Linked DNA regions of Homo sapiens: region 2 is linked to region 1. Evidence: fine-mapped expression QTL. Tissue or cell type: whole blood. Region 1 holds a variant in brackets; the other region holds the start of a gene. All regions are shown on one strand. Distances are between the middles of the regions.

Region 1 (8,338 bases):
CAGCACAAGGCTTGGCATATGGTGGTGGCCTGTAAAAGCCAGTGATGTGACTATGAAACCAATCCACTCATAGCACTGCACGTGCTTTTTGGGAGGGAGCTGGCTCAGAGAGGAAAGGCCATCAGCACTGGTCCCCCCAGTAGGATCTAGGCACCATGGGGAACCTGCGGGCCCCTCCAGCCCCTCCACCATGTGTCCTGGGGGTAGCCCTATCCCCCTGGGCCTCAGTGGCGCCGTGTGCACTGGCTCTGGGGGTGCCAGGCTGCGTCTCACCATCGGGCCAGCCCAGAAATAGCTGTGACCTTCCGCAGCCAGCTTGGCAGCGCTTGGGGCCAAGAGGCCTACGTGCATGCCGGCTGAGTCCCCTCACCGTGCAGGGCTGGCTATTTTGGACGTGGCCTCCCGAGGCCAGGTCAGAGCTCTTTCCCGCGGTTCCTCAGGCCCCTCTGACGTGCGTCCACTAGAGCCTCGGCCAGTGGCCCTGGCTAGCTCCATGATCTCGATCCCCCTTCCTGTCCCCGACCCCACGGGCCCTGGGTGGCACAGAGGAAGGGATCCCAGGGACTGAGCACAGGGTGACCGCGCCTGCTGGGGCTGACATGGAGTGTAGGGCTTGGCTGTTTTAAGAAGAAAATGCAGAGAAAGTGCCCACCCTGGGTAGGCCCTGAATCCTGTCTCAGCCTCTCAGAGCTCTCGCTGACTGCACAGCCTGAGCCTCGGTTTACTCATCCACAAAATGGGGTGATGGGCGCCTTCCAGGACTGCTCTGAGGATGGACATGGGCATTGCCTGTGCTGAGGGCACCACGCGAGGCCACTACACAGAGGGGTTCTTGGGCCTTCTCCGCCTTCCATGGGACTGGACACTGGGTTCAGGGAGGGGCGTCATGGGTATATGGGGGTGCTGCGCTGGGCAGTGGCTAAGCGTGGGCTCTTCCTTTTCTGTGACACAGCAGAGGTGTACATGCCTGCTGCCCTGTCCAGGGCGTCTGGGTATGGTGGAAGTGGCCCCAAGGTCCAGCCACCCTCAGGGACCACAAGCTTCCTGGACACCCTGCTGACAGGGTCCCACTGTGGAGGAACAGGCCGGCCCAGCTCCCCACCTCCCAAGTGAGCATGGGTGGCTGGGTGGGCGTGAGGGATTGGCTCCCCTGCTAGAGGGCAGAACTCCTGTTCCCGTGAAGGTGCTGGGTGGGGTGTGAGTCTGCTCCTGGGTTTGGGGTCAGGCATGCCAGGAACAGCAAGCAGGGGCTGCCTGCCTGCCTAGTGCTGGCTGCATGCTCATGGCCCTCAGGGCCCTGTCCCCTGGATGGTCCAGGGGTCCCGAGGAGGAGCCATGGCCTCTTCTCCGTGGAGAGGCCCTGTGGGCCCAAGGCCTGGCTCCATCCAGGCAGGCACATGGAATTCAGCCAAACTCTGGATCCTTTCTGCAGAGCAGGCTTAGCTTGAGCCCTCCCACAGCGAGCTCGCCCACTGCCCACCCTGCCCTCTCAGCCTCTGTGACAACTCTGTGGGCACTGCCAGGGGCAGTTCCTGTGTATTCTCATCTGGTGATGGGTTCATAATTCTCATGTTGTGTGGGTGACTAACAAGGTCTGGGAGCTCAGGAGAGGGGCCCAGAGGCACACAGCATGCACGGGACGGTTTTGCAGTTCCCAGGGGGCACCTGGGGTGGAGGCTTAGCCAGGCCCAGTGGGCTCAGGGCTGGCCTCATGCCCTTCCCCTGTTGTGGACCACTTTGGGGCCTCTGGCTGATGCTGGTGGGTGAGGACCTTCCTGGGCAGCCTCCTCCGGCCAGCAGGAGGGACCATCAGGCCATGCGGACCCTTGGAGAGCTTGGGGGTCGGTTCCTGCCCTGGAGTCAGCTGTGTCTGCTGAGGGTCCACTGGTGTGTGGCACAGAAGGGGTAGGGGCTGTGCCTGGTGTGCCAGGGAGGCCCTGAACTCTCCGGGAGGCCAGATCAGGGGCCTCCTCTGGGCCTGCTGGGGGCCTCTGCATTCTTGGCAGGGCCTCAGGGACTGGGGCGGGGAGAGGCTCCTTCTCAGAGGCTGTGAGCTCCGAATGAAACTCCATGCCCTCCGGGACACCATGCCCACTTCTGGGTACTGGCCTTCAGGGGCCTTGGATGTGGGTGGCATGGCACTGGCTAAATGGGGCCCAGGAGGAAGGCAGCAGGACCGTGGGCATGCAGGCCTAATGCCAGGGCCAGGGCAGGCTTCATGTGGGCTTCCTCCTGTCTGGAATCCTGGAGCCGCACAATTTCCGACCCAACACCCCGTACTCCAGAGCGACTGGCTCTTAACGGAAGCTGCTGCTGGCAGGTGTGTTATAACAGAGCTCTGGGGTGGGAGGCTGGGGGCAGGGAGGGTTAGGGCCGTCAGAACACGGCTCCCTCCTGCCCAGGGCAAGGTGGGGCCACGTGTGCGCATGTGAGTGGGGCACCTGGTCTGGGTGTGGCCTGGGAACCTGCATGTTACAGACGCCATGGCTTTGGAAACACTCAGGAGTCCAGCTGTGTCTGTTCCAAGATGGGTCAGGGTTGCCGCAGGGAGGGCAGTGACTGGTCCACAGCTGGTGTGGCTGTGCCATCCTCCTTCCAGCCTGGGCAGAGGCCTTCCAGGCAAGATGAAAGATGCGGTATGGACAGGAGGACATGGAGGATTCAGGGCTCTTGGTGTAAAGATGCTGTGTGGACAGGAGGACATGGAGGATTCGGGCTCACGGTGTCCCTGGAGGCTCTGGTGGGCGTCGTGGGGCTGGACTGCTGCGGGGCAATGGGGTCCCCATCTTCCCGGCACAGGCATCTGATCTGGTCATCTGTTTCTGTGGCGTGTGTGTGTGTGTGTGTGTGTGCACGTGAGCACACATCTCTGTGTATGCAGGTCAGTGTGTGTGCTTGCCAGAGCTTCCCATTGGGCGGTTTCCACACTGGCTTCTCAGTCATCCTGGGAGGTAAGGCATGAGCACTGGACTGGGAGTCCTGTCTGAGCCACCGACTTGGCCTGCCATTGTGGAGCTGTCCTGTCCACTCGCTGGACATTAGGCCATTTGTGTACAATAATCCCCTGAGATTTGTATCCTCCCATGGGGAGATCAAAAGGGGCCGAGTGTGGCCCTAGGGTCTGGGGGCCCAGCCTGGTGGGTAGACCTGGCTTCTGGGACTGTAGTGGTGGAAGGTGGCTGGGGCAGGGGAGGTTCACTCACTGGGAGGCTGGAAGAGGTGGCCCGGTAGGGAGAGAGAAGGGCAGCCAGACAGAGGGCACGTGGGAGCAGCAGCCTGGTGGCAGGTGTGTGAGTCTCTGCACCTGGCCGGGGTCTTGAGGAGCAGGAGAGGTTCGGGCAGGTGGCTGAGGAGAATGCGGGCACTGAGCTTGGGAAGAGCCCTGGACTGGGGGGGGGGTAGGGACTGTTGGGCAGCCCCAGACTGGCACAGGTGGATCGGGTGCCTAGGCAGGGGGTGGTGAGTTATGGCGCAGCTGTCTTGGTGGCTGGGGGGAGCAGGGATAAGGGTGGACTTCTTAGTGACCGCTCTCTGCCCCAGGAGGTAGAGTCCTGGGGGCTGGGCTGGCCTGAGAGACGCCCCCTCATCCTTTCCAGGGTGAGGTACGAGGGCTCCGCCCCCTCCTGATATCACCAGGCCTAGGGCAGCATCCTGATGGGGGAGGGGCAAGTGACCCGGGCCCTGGACTGCAGGAACAGCCCCTCCTCCACTGGTGGAGTTCCCACTTCCTGCGGAAGGAACTATGTTAGAAGTTGTGTATATGGGGTGGGGGTTGGGTGTGGGTGGCGGGGGGCCTGGGTGGGGTCCACTGAGTCGCCTCCCCTGTC[T/G]CCCTGCACTTCCTCCTGGAGGAAATGGGGACAACAGGATGAAGTGAGGGCCTGCTGAGCCCAGGGCTGCCACCTGGGAGTGAAGCCGGGGCAGGCTGCAGGGTCCGGGCCCTTCTGTGTGGGCAGGTGGAAGTGGTGGGGATGCAGTGAGGCTCCCTCCAGCGCGGCAAGGAACGGGCCCTGGGACCCTCTTCCCAGCCTGCAGCAGGCAGTGGGGAGACAGGCCGGAGCCCTGGACAGCCCCCAGTCTTTCCCCACCCCAACTACAGGGCCTGGGTCTCCGTGCGCCATCCCCCTCCCGCCCCCTCCCGCTCGCTCCCGCTGTTACAGGGCCCTAGGGACCGCCCTGTCCCCCGTGGGCCCCAGAGCCCAGGCCAGCGCTGGAGGGACCCTCCTGCCCTCTGGCCGGGACCAGGGTGCCCGCCGCAGCCCTGGGACCCTGCGGCCCCGGTCCCTATTCGAGGCCCCAGCCGGAGCGTTCCGGGATCCTTCGGGGGAGTGCCCAGCCCCGCGCCCCCGCCTCCCACATGACTCCGGGTGGGCCCTTTTGACGTGCGCGGAGGGCGGGGGGCAGGGGGCGGGGCGGGGGGGCAGGGGGCAGGGGTGGTGAAGGGTAGGGGGCGTGGCGGGGAGAGGGGATGGGGTGGGGTGGGGACTGGGGTGGGGTGGGGTGGGGAGAGGGTGTGGGGTGGGGTGGGGAGAGGGTGTGGGGTGGGGTGGGGAGAGGGGATGGGATGGCATGGGGGGATGTGGCAGTGAGGAGGCTGGGCCCTTGGAGCTGCCGAGTGCAGGGGCCTGGAGGACTCCGGGAAGGCGTCCTAGTGCATCAAGCGTGGGCTTGGCCTGCTTGGGTCTCCCCTCCTGGCCCCCCTAGCAATGGGCGGACTTGGGCCCGCTCTGGGAGGATTCCAGGAACGGCTCCTGCCTGGTTATAAATAGACTTCTCCGAAAGGCCTGGGGCTGTGCCAGCTGCAGCAGGTGCCTCCCAGGCCCGGCCAGAGGGCCCCAGGCAAGGGGGTGGAGCCCGGGTGGGGGTGATGAGGATGCTGGGGTCCACTTTTGTAGCGCCAGAGGCGACGGGCTCTGTCTGGTTGTAGCATCACAGAGCTTGATGGGAACTTTCACTCTGAGACCCCTTTTATGGATAAGAAAACTGAGGCTGGGGGGCAGGAGCAGCTTACCCCAGAGGTCCTCTCTCCCAGAGGGCTAGGGTGGGGATAAGCAGGGTCTCGGGGGCAGCAAGACCCAGCTCCAAATGTGGTTTTTCTGCCTTCTGGCTGTGTGACTCAGAAGGGTTGCTCAGCTTCTCTGTGCTGTTATGGTTTGTCAGTGCAGTGTGGCAGGTGTGTGTCTTGCTTGTGGAATGCAGTGTCTAGCCTGGTATCCTTAGAAAGTGGCTGAGGTTGGAGATTGGTGGGGCAGAGTCCCTGAAGCTGACCCATTCTTGCCTTCAACCTTCAGGGAGACGCTGCTGGAAGTGGTGAGCTGAGAGCACTGGGCAGGAGTCAGAGCCTAGCGTCTCCCTGTGGAGCTGGGTGCACCCACGTGGGTGGGTGCCCTTGCCAGGGAGCTCACACCCTTGGGGGTCCATGAGCTGGCAGGCAGGGCTACCTGGCTTGGTGTGCCCTTGGGTGGAGGCTCCCATGGGGCCCTTCAGACTGGGCACAGCCCTCCTGTCCTCTGCTCCCCAGCCTGCTTGCCCACCTGGAGGTGGGAGGAGGCGAGGGTTGCCGGCACAGCTGGGCCAGGCTGATGGTGATGTTTTCTGGAAGTGTGGGTGGGGAGAGCCTGGCAGGGGGAGGGGGGGTCGTGCTCTCAGCTGGGCCCCTTGATGACCTCAGATTGCAGGGACCAGGTTGTTTGAGAGCTGCAAGCAGGGCCACACCTCCAGGGACCCTGTGCTGGGGGTACCACCCTTGCCGCTCCACCCTGCTCTGAGGGCCCTGGGTGGCCAGGGCGGGCACAGAGTGGGTGGTGATGCCAGCTGCATCCCTGGGGTTCATAGTCTGGGGAGCACATGAGTTCCCGGCACAATGCTCCCAGGAGGCAGAGCCAGGAGTCGCAGGGAGGCGTTTGCTTGAGAGGGTCTGGGAGGGCTTCCTGGAAGAGGGGGCATCAGTGCCGAGCCTCAGAGTTTGTGGAGCCCGCCGCCTGGCTGAATCCTGCCTGCCGGTGTTACCTCAGGGTGTTCCTCGTTGCAGTGCCTCAGTTTCCTCACCAGTACGCTAGGAGAGACCAGCGTAGCCAGCCACAGCGGGGTCGTGAGGATTAAGTGAGGGGACAGCAGTGTCTGGCACGGTGGGTGCTGAGTAAATTCATGGAGGAGTGCCCGGGCGGTGGGGCTGGTGGGCTGGGCAGGGGGTCTGAACTGGAGGGACTCGGGCGCCCTCCTCCTCAGGGTGCAGGACAGCACCTGCACGGCGGGGCCGCATTTCCATTTCCAAAGCTGGGCGCGCTCTGTCCAGGCCTCCCCACCAGGAGCGCGGCCCGGCGGCTCCTGCCCTCCGGACCCCCAGCCCACAGGCCCGTGCAGCCCCATGAGGGGGCCAGGGGGAGCTCCGAGGTTCTAGGGAGGGCGCGCACCGGGAGAGGGCGCCGGGCCGGCCGGCGGGAGGAAGGAGGGGTCCCGGGCGGCAGCGCCCCCGGCCCTCGCCGCGCCCCGCACTTCCCTTTCCTGGCTGGGCTTCCTCTTCCCCGCGCCCGCCCTGCGCGGCCCCTTTGTTTCCCGGGCAGGGCGCGGCTATATTTAGGCGGCAGGTGTGGGAGCCCCCGGCAGCCGGGTCGCCCGCCGGTCACGCCCCCCACGTGACGCCCGGGCGCTATAAATAGCCGCAGGCGGCGGTGGCGGCAGCGCCTGGAGCCGGCTCCGCGGCGGAGGGGCGGCGCCCCGACCCAGGGCCAGCACCGTGGGCACCGCCAGGCCGGCGCGTATGGAGGCGGTGGGACGCCTGCGGCGCGGGTGAGCCTGGCAGGTGGGGACGCGGCGGACCCAGGCCTTCCGGGACCCCAGCCCCGCCGGGGAGGAGGTGGCGCCCTCCGGAGGGCTGGGCGGGAGCCCCGCTGGCACCCAGGGAGGGGGCCGCGCCCCTTACCACGACCCCACCCGCGACTGGTTCCCCGGGACTCCCCAGAGCGCCCGCCTCAGCCCTGACCGCGGCGCAGCTTACTTCTCCTGAGACCCGCTGAGCCCCGGGCCTCCAGCCTCCTCCCCCAAAATCACAGGGGGCGCCCTGTCTGAAGCGGGGGCTGGATTCAAACTTCTTAAGCTGCTGTGCCATCGGGAAGGAGGGCGGTAGCCTCCCTGAACCTCGATTTCCTCTTCTGTGCAGGGCGCTGCGTGTTGTTCCTGCCTCCTAGATTTGAGCCAGAGAGAACCCAGTTAACTGGACGCCTGGTGTGGCCCTGGTGGAGAATGTTCTCCCCTCTCCCTGGCTTGTTTCCTCATCTCGCAAACAGGGACAAGGATGGACTCTCCCTTAAAGGGTCTTGAGAAATAGCTGAGGGCTCTGGGCCTGCTGGCCCGAGGAGGCTGAGCCAGATCTTGGGAAGGGTTCTGCAGGGCTTGGTAGCAGGAGGGAAGGAGGTAGCAGGAGGGAAAGAGGGGCCACGGCTGCCAGTGGGTCCCCGTGCTGTGGGCCGCGGGCCTGGTGGGGGTGGTAGCGACTCAGGACACATGGAGGCAGGGGCAACCTGTCCCCATTTCGCAGATGGGAAGCCTGAGGCTTTGGCTTCAGGGAGTTCTCAGTGCCCATCCCTGGGGATCCTTAACCCTTGCTCTCAGGGCCCTACCTGGTGACCTCACTGGGGGCGTGTGGTTATGGAGGGGTTTTCTCCCTTGGGGGACAGCCACCAGGCAGGGCAGAGCCACATAGTGGTGCCAGGGCATCATTGCTTTGCTCTCACCTGGGGCAGGGGTAGGGGCCCTAGGCTGCAGAGACAAGTGGGATGTGTGGCAAGACCCTGGTCCAGCCTCTCCCTGGACCCCTAACCCCATTCTAGCCTGGGCTGTGACCCCTGAGCGTAGCCCAGGCTAACCCCCTGATTCCGGCAGATGTGTGGCATCCTTAGGCCTTCAGTGGGGGGTAGTGTGGGGTGGTTCGGAGCCTCCTCCCTCCCAGTAGCCTGCAGCCCTGAGGACCTGTGCAGGGCCACTAGGCAGCAGGTCCAGGCCACGTGCTGGTGCCTGTGGGGTCTTCCTGGGTCCCTGGCAGCTGTAGGTGTGAGGGGTTGGTCAGCCCCTCAGGGAGAGGCCCAATACTGTGGTTTCTCTGGTGCTTTTCTTCCTTTCTTTCTGTAAACATGAGCTCGGCTCCCGTGTGCACACACACAGGGACATCCTGCTGCCCCAAGAGGGACCCAGGTGTTTGTGTGCTGTTAGCACGTGGTGGCTTCCCTCACCCACACTCAGAGCCTGTGCTCCCTCCAGTCGGGCAAGGTGGGGACTGGCGGGACCAGGGACAGTATCCTTGTCTCCACCTTTACCTCCTTCTGGGGGTCCCACCCCACCACCG
Region 2 (8,000 bases), 23 kb before region 1:
TCCCAAGAGCCCTGTGAGGTTGGAGCTATTACTATGACATTTATAGATGGGGAAACTGAGGCCAGGAGAGGTCAAAGTGTGCAGCCCAGTGATGGGGGCTCAAGAGCTGCTGCTGGTGCCATTAGCCCACCCATGCCCTCCGTGGCTGGATCTAGGTCCCCCAGCCTGGGCCCCTCCTGTAGGGCCCTGCTGGGCTGGAGGAGGCTTTCCAGAAATCCACTTAACGCTGACCTCGTCTTTGTCCTCCTTGGAGCTAATCTGCTAATCCTGCCAGCCCCAGTGGGCCTCACCACTGTCTAGATCGTCCTGCATGGTTGGCATCCCTCTCCAACAATCCCCCACCTGCGGGGGCCTCCTCCTGGCCATGCCTCCAGGGCTGGGCAGGTCCAGTGACTGGGGTAGGTGGAGCTGGGATTCTTTCTGTGGAACATTCCTCAATCCTGGGGGAGATTCTGGAGTCTGGAATTCAGGAGACTGGGCCTGGCTTCTGACCCCACCTTTTCACGGCTCAGCCATCATCTCTGAGGCCCCGTTTTCTCCTCTGTAAAACACGATCACTTTGAGCTCTCTTCCGGCTATGAAATCCCAGGATTCTCCCCAAGCCTGTTCATGCCCGGCCCATTCCACTCACAGCAGTTGGACAGCTCTGGTTTCACCGTGCCTGGGTTTGAATCTTGATTCTGCTTTCGCTTAGCTTCTGCTTCCTAATCTGCAAAATGGGGGTGTCAGGGATTCCTCTGCAGGGCTCAGTGTGGACTTGGTGGGTGGGTGTAAGTCCCTGGCATGTGGTCAGCACTCGGTGAATGTCTGAGAACTGAAATGAATCCAGCATGGAGGAGCCTCCTCCTTTGCTCCCGACTCCCTGCAGGATGGTAAGAGCGTGGGGAGGAAGGAGGCTCCAGCCTCTCGGGAGCCCACTCACCCCAGCAAATTTGGGTGGCTGGGATAGAAACCTCTCTGAGATTTTGGGCAGGAGAGGAGGAAAATAGCATGAAACAGGCAGGGGGTGTTGGTGCTGCTCAGGCTAGATGAAGCCAAACATTTATTTATTAATGCTTTTTTTTTTTTTATCTTTTTTGAGACAGGCTCTCGCTCTTTCACTTAGGCTGGGGTGCTGGCGGGATCAGGGCTTACTCTAGCCTTGTCCTCTTAGGCTCAGGTGATCCTCCCACCTCAATCTCCAAGCTGGGACTATAGGAGCATGCCACCATGACTGGCTAATTTTTTATTTTTTGTAGAGATAGGGTCCCACTATGTTACCTAGGCTGGTCTTGAATTCCTAGGCTCAAGTGATCCTCCCGCCTCAGCCTCCCAAATTGCTGGGATTATAGTGTGAGTCACTGTGCCCGGCCTTAAGCTAAACATTTAAAAAATAAGAATTAAAATGCAGCCACAGTGAAACGGGAAGGGGCTGCTTTTACAGGTGCTGAACTTCCCGGCAATAGAAGCATTTAATGGGAGGTTCCCTTTTTCCTAGGACCTCAAAGCTGGAGTACCAGGGATGTTGCCTTGACCTTCCCATGTGTGGATTTCTGCTTGAACACACCAAGTACAGGACACCCTGTTTAGCAGCTAAACGTGGGAATTGCACCAGCTTTACTCCCAACTTGCTGGGCAATCTTCGGGAGTTGCTGACCTTCTCTGTGTCTCATCAGCAAAACAGGGAGAACACTAGCTCTCCCAACATGGGCTGTGTGAGGACCAAATGAGCTGAGGAGCCCAGATTTGAACCCGGGTCTGCAAGGTTATGTCCTCTGAGCCATCCCCACCCCTGCCCTTAAGGACCAGGGGCCTCTGGACACCATCAGCTTGCCCACCTGTCCAGGATTTGCACGCACCTGCTCGGTGCCAGATGCTGGGCACTGGGGACAAACCAGGTGAGGTGTGGACCGTGACCTGTGTTGTCACTGATTGGGGGACTTTCTGGCAGAGTGGAGAGTGCAGTGGGCTGAGAGACAGGATGGCCAGTGGAGACTGAGCTCTCAGAGGCGGCGGCAGCTGATGGGGACCATGCAATGGGAAGGATGGAGGCCCTGGGATAGTCTGCGGTGAACTTCCAGGCAGAAGGAACAGCAGGTGCAAAGGCCTTTAGCTGGGAAGGAAACTCTGGGTTGGAGGAATAGCTTGCAGGCGCTCTGAGAGAGGCTGGCAGCCAGGTGGCAGGGAGGCAGCCCAGTCAGGTGGTCTTGGGACAGTTTAGGGTCTCTGGCCTTCACCAGTGAGGTGGTGTCTGGAGACTTTTGCAGACGAAGGCAGCTCTCACTCCCATCTTCCCGGGGTCCCTCTGGCTGCTGAGGGTGGATGGGTGGAAAAGCATCTTTCAGGGAAGTGGAGGCAGGGCTGGAGCAGTTGAACATCTGACTGGGCCAAGGGTCCAGGGACTGGCATGGAACAGGGCTGGGTGGGTGAGGCCGCCTGGGAGACCCCAGCTTGCCTCTGTTTCCCCCTGTACTGGGGCCTCCTGCGTGAACCAGCACTGGTTTTTCCAGTAACTGGAGCCACAAGCCTCCCTAGGAACGGCTGACCCATAAGAGGACGTCCTCAAGGTCCCCAAGGGCTAGAGGCTGAGATGCCGCCTTCGCCTGGGCGGGCCTCGCAGCCTGGAGGCAGGCGGTGGTGCAGCTCGGGCAGGCCCCGTCCACACGCCTCCCCGCTCTTCTGAGCACCACGCGTCCCGTGGGCTCCCTACCCGTCCTGATAACACGGCGGTCCGGGGGCCTCGAAGCCGGTCTGACCCCAAGTACCCGGGCCAGGCGGCTGCCGTCTTGTCGCCCCAGCCCATCCCCTCAGCCAGCCCGCCTGGCGGCACGGGACCTAGCCCCAGTCGACTTAGGGGGAAACTGAGAACTCCAGAAGTTTCGTGAACTCCCTGGCTTCGTCCGCATCCCGCCCTCTGCCTCTTCGCTCGGGCTTCAAAACTGCCCCTCCGACGCCCGCCTGCCCCAGGCCGACCTGGCCTAGGCGCCCGGCAGGCACAGGAGCCAAGGTCAGTCCCCGAGGCCGCCCGCGCGACCGGAGCCGCCTCCTCCCAGCCCAGGGGCGGCCTCGGGGGCGGCGGGCGCGCGGCCGCGGCGTGGGGAGCGCTCCCATTGGGCCGTGCCCCCACGTGACCCAGCGGGTCCGGCGCGCGCCCTAAGCCGGTGGAGCCGCGGCCGCGCCTGTGCGCGAGGGCGCGCGCGTCCCGAGCCCTCCACCCGTCGTGCCGGCGCCGCCCGGACCGCCAGGTCAGTCTCCTCCGCGCCCGCTCGGGGCGGGGGCGCGCGGCGCTTTGTGGAGGCGCGTGGGGGGCCGTCCGCGCGCGAGCCCGCCGCCCGCTCCGGGCACGGCTTCGGGGCCGCGCAGCCGGGAGGGCCGCCGCCTTCCCCCTGCCCGCGCGTCCCGGGACCCTGCGCCTGGCGGCCGATCCGGCGGGAACGTGGGCCTGGAGGCTGCCACGTGCCGGGGCCGAGCCTCAGGAGGCCGCTGTTTCCCCAGGCGAGCCACAGAACACCCCTGGCTGGAAGGGGGTGACCCGCTCCCGTTTCTGGGTGCGCGGGAGACCTCCTACCCTGAGTTCATCCTGCGCAGGGTCCCGCCCAGGATCTGGCTCTGCCCCCATTCACGGCTCATTTTCCTCAGCTGCACAGTTTGGGGGGCTGGAACCCCACAGCCTTCCGTGCCTCCAGGGCGGGTCGTAGATGTCAGTGGAGGTCAGGGGAAAGCAGAGCGTCAGGTCTCAGGCCGGGTGGAGTCCGCCTCAGACCATACCAGTGTTGGGACTCGGGCGGCGCCTCAGCCCTCCAAGCACACCCCGGTAGAATCAGGTCAGCAGCCTTGATCCACGTGCCTCAGGGATTAAACGGGTGACTCCTGACACGCCCCTGGGCAGCTGGTGGCCCAGGGGTGGGGTGGTGGCATGCTTAGCTCCAAGTGGGCAGAGCAGTTTCACCCTGCCGGTTCCCGGAGGGAAGCCCTTTATGAGGGAGGCTTCCCTGGCCCTCTGTGATAGCGGCTCCAAGGGCAGCGTGAGGTCCAGGCTAGCTGGTCACAGTGTGTGCCCGGGCACCCTCAGCCAAGACAGAAAGGCACGTGCTGCACCCCCTCTCTCTGCCTGCGGGCTCTGGGGTGTGCCCCGCACACGATGGTGGGTGTTGGGCATCCACCTAGTCTGTGGACCCTGGGGGCCCTGCTCCCAGGTTGGAGCAGTGTCCTCGGCTGCAGACCAGAGGAGGTCACTGAACACAGGGTGCCTGTGGCCTTGCACAGACAGAAGCCGCCTGGCAGCCCTGTGCAGAGCCGTGCTTCACTGAGTTCCTGCAATCCTCCCAAGAAGTTCGTTAACCCCATTTCTCAGATGAGGAGACTGAGGCCCACAAAGGTGGAGTTGGTGCAGCCCCTAGCCTGCGGGGCTAAGCAGAGCCTTGTTGTCCCCATCTGCAAAGGGGGCGTTGGAGCTGCTGTAAATGGGCCCCGAACCTGTCACCTGAGTGGAATTAGGCATTGGGGATCTCCCCATCACCACGCCGGCCCCCCTCACTGTGGTTACGAAGGAGGAGAAGCTGCCCTGTGTAGGAATTCCTGGGCTGTTTCCAAATAGCCCCGCTAGGGAGCTGGTCACCCCTCAACACCCCCAACGTGTTCTCCAAGCACTTACTCTGTGCCAGGCCCAATGCTGGACCTGGAGATGGGGCATGGCTGGCTGGCTGAGCGGGGCAGGTTGCGGACAGGCCCCCGCAGGCAGTCGGCGTGATGGGAGAAAATGCAGGCGGGGATGAGATGCAGCCTCCAGGTGGTTTCCTCAGCTGCCTGCTCCTCTCTGCCTTTGCCCTCCTCCCGGAAGCTTGCGCTGACCACTGGAGTAAGGCTGGGGGCCTCAGCTGGTCCCCTCTCTGTCCCAAGTAACAGCCCAGAACATGGTGAGGGTGGCTGGCTGATGCAGTCAGGCACTGGACATGGGAGGCAGGAGGAAGGCCGGGAGGTGGGCAGCTTTCTCAGACAAGTGGGCAGTTTGGATGGCGAGGAGGTCTTGGAGGCACCATGGGTGGCTGGGCTCAAAGATGACATGAGGGCATGCTTAACAGATGCTTAACCAAATCCTGAATTGGCATTGGCCAATTTCTGTGGTGTAACTACTCCCAAGCTACACAGACGTGACTTTACTGGCTGAGGACTTGGGCAGAGGTGCACACAGTCAGACTGAGAGGGGGGCATAAGCTGGTGTGAGCCCTCCCTCTCACCGCCAGGGTGGGCAGAGTGTCCGCTGGTGCCCAATGCCTATGCACGTGACCTCCTTAGGGACTTACATCCAGATGGCGGTGATACAGCTTGGGGAGGCCTCTCCCTGGTTGGCAGGTCCTGGCGAAAGGGTGAGTTAAGTGGAAAGTGTACCAGGCTGGTGTCCAGGTGGCATTTGGCCAGAGGGGCTGAGCTGGGAGCTCCTGGGCCTGGGGCTGGCAGATAGTGGTGATTTTTCGCCCCCCAAGACCTTGGGCTTGCCTTGTTCCATGAAGGTCCCAAATCTGACCAAAGGCTGTAACCAGATGGTCACTGTCCCAGACCACCCCAGGGCGCTTTCTCACCTCGAGAGCACCGTTTCTCCCCACCTCCACCCTGGCCGCCCTTGCTGTCACCTACTCCCTCTGGTCCCTGGCACCCCTCCCTGCCTGCAGTGGTGTTTCCTAGCAAGTGCAGCAGCCCGAGGCTGGGCTAGAGGCAGGAGGGCCTGGCCTCCCAGTGTCTTGCTGGATACTTGGTTTCTTGCCCCTCCGTTTCCACACCTGTAAAATGGGAGCAATGACAGGTCTTCCTGGCAGGACAGTGGTGAAGCTTGGTCACACGGGTGAACATGTGTGAGGTAAAAAAGACTTCCCATCCCTCCTTCTGACCTGGACCGGCTCGCAGGACCCATAGGCAGGGACCTGGGCAAGGTCCGAGGGCCGATGAGCCCCGTCCTCTCTGCACAGTTCAGAGTTGGGTGGGAGTGGCTGTGGGCTGCAGGAGGAGGTACTGCACTTCGCACAGTTACGTGGTCGGGTTGGCATCGCCGCCGCCTGACTTCGGCGCCCCGCGAGTTGGGTGTGTGCGGTTGGGGGCGGCCCAGAGTGTGCCCCACGCCTGCCAGTCGGGTAGGCCAGCCTCCCTGGAGAGAGGGGGGCCTCCCCAAGGTGGGACGGGGACAGGGACGGGTGCTTCCTTCCACCCAGGAGCCTGAGCAGAGGGTGGAGGGTCCTGGCAGCTACCTACGGCAGCTGAGAGCTGCGCTCTTTAGCCGAGCGGGATCAGGGCTACGTGGACACAGCCCGTGCCAGTGTGGGTGGGGCACGAGCTGTGGGTTCCGATGGCCCAGTAGGCGTTCACCTGGCAGAGAGTGTGCGCGTGTCTCCCCTCCTTGGGGCGCCTCAGGTCAGGACCCTGAGAACCTCACTTATCCTTTGAGCTGCGCCAAGGCTGTTGTACAAAAGACAGTTCAGAAAATAAGGACAGGCTGTTCCTCCCAGCCAAGGGTGTGGCCCTAAGGACCCCTAGGTGGGGCATCGCTTCCCGCCAGGCACGTGCCACTCAGTCTTGGGCTGCTTTAGTGGCAGCCTCCTGGTTTGGAAGCGGAACTGAGGGTCAGGGATGACCACATGGCTCAGGGCTCAGCTGGGGTCCTGAGAGTGGGCCCTCAGGTTTACCTTCCTCCTGGAGGGGAACTGGGGGCCATTGCCCAGTGCACCCCCACTTCCCCTTAGGTGCGTGGGCCACCCCTCCCTCCTGCAGCCCCCGTTCATCTACCCAGGATAGGTGCATGGGCCACCCCTCCCTCCTGCAGCCCCCGTTCATCTACCTGGGGAAGGTGCGTGGGCCACCCCTCCCTCCTGCAGCCCCCGTTCATCTACCCGGGGTAGGTGCGTGGGCCACCCCTCCCTCCTGCAGCCCCCGTTCATCTACCCAGTGGGGATGTCCCCTGGCTCCTCTCCTGGCATCTTCCCGGGATGTAGGGGTGCTCCCATGCCCCCCGGCTCCTCTCCTGGTGTCTTCCCCAGATGTAGGGGTGCCCTCATGTCAGGGCTTATGCTTCTAGAAGGAGTGGAAATGCAGCACAGTCATTGCTGTTGCCTGCCAAGGGCCACCCTGGCTGGGGACAGATGGGGCTGCCTCCCCTCTCCCACCCTGTCCTGGCCACCTGCCCCCGCCAACCCTGCCACTGGCTCAGAGGAAGCAGGCCTAACCTGATGTGTAACCCCCACCCCTGCCGTGACTGTAACCCCGTGCCATGTGAAGGTGGGGCTCCTTGGCAGTGCCTGGTGATTGCGGTACAGCCAGAACCGGCCCCATTATCTGGGCTGTGGGTGCCATTGGTCAGGACCGTGATGGACTCATACGTAAAACTTGATGCATTTTAACTCCCTTCATCCTAGAGGATTGAGACCTCTGGCGGGTAAGTGTTCATATTACCGTCCTGCCCTAGAGCCAGGGAAGGACCCTAGGGGAGAAGTGACGTGCCAGGGTCACTGCTGGGAGGAGAGCAGGAATTTGAACGCTGGCCATGCCTCCTTTTTGGGGAAAGGTCAGTAAATGGGCAGGGGAGGGTGCTGGTCATTTGGGTGATGGTGCCAGTGGGGTGAGCAGCTCCAGGTCATCAGGTGGTATGGAATCTGGCCCCGGGCAGCCCGTCCAGCATTCCTCTCTCACCGAGCCCACAGCCCTGGAGCACCTACTGTGTGCCTGCTCTGGCCCACTGGGAACAGGACAGTCCCGAGCCCTGCCCCGAGGAGCTGGCGCCAAGTGGAGCAGCTGCACCACAGGCACACGGGGGACAAAGGGCACCGCTGATGATTTGGCCAGGAAGAGATGAGGTGGGGATGGGGGCTACAGGGTGGGGAGACGGTGGCCTCGGGAAGGGCTAGCTTGGCCACGCCAGCTTGGTCATGTCACCTTCTGAGTCTCAGTGTTCCCTTCTCACGTGGGACAAGACCACGCATAACCCGAGGGGCTGCATGTGTGGAGCCGACAAGCTGACGTGCGGGTCCTGAGTGCAC

The links. PIP is the estimated chance that this variant, and not a neighbour inherited with it, causes the effect.
Region 2: PTP4A3 starts here. The variant in region 1 is fine-mapped to the expression of PTP4A3 in whole blood (TOPMed, PIP 0.96). The same link has a PIP of 0.9 or more in blood mononuclear cells.

What each region holds. Positions count from the first base shown.
Region 1 is chr8:141,411,233-141,419,570 of GRCh38, forward strand. The region is part of intron 1 of PTP4A3 (protein tyrosine phosphatase 4A3); the gene reads left to right. Among named protein-coding and RNA genes, the nearest start is that of ASTILCS, 23 kb to the left of the region's middle. RefSeq lists enhancers at 15-5,020, 734-1,581, 3,502-4,461. The variant T/G (reference allele first, on the strand shown) is at 3,828.
Region 2 is chr8:141,388,861-141,396,860 of GRCh38, forward strand. PTP4A3 (protein tyrosine phosphatase 4A3) reads left to right here and starts at 3,161. Exons shown (of 6, transcript NM_032611.3): 1 at 3,161-3,224. It overlaps ASTILCS (antisense transcript of PTP4A3, liver carcinoma survival associated), which reads right to left and starts at 3,761. Exons shown (of 2, transcript NR_187488.1): 1 at 3,548-3,761; 2 at 1,008-2,291. RefSeq lists an enhancer at 2,233-2,853.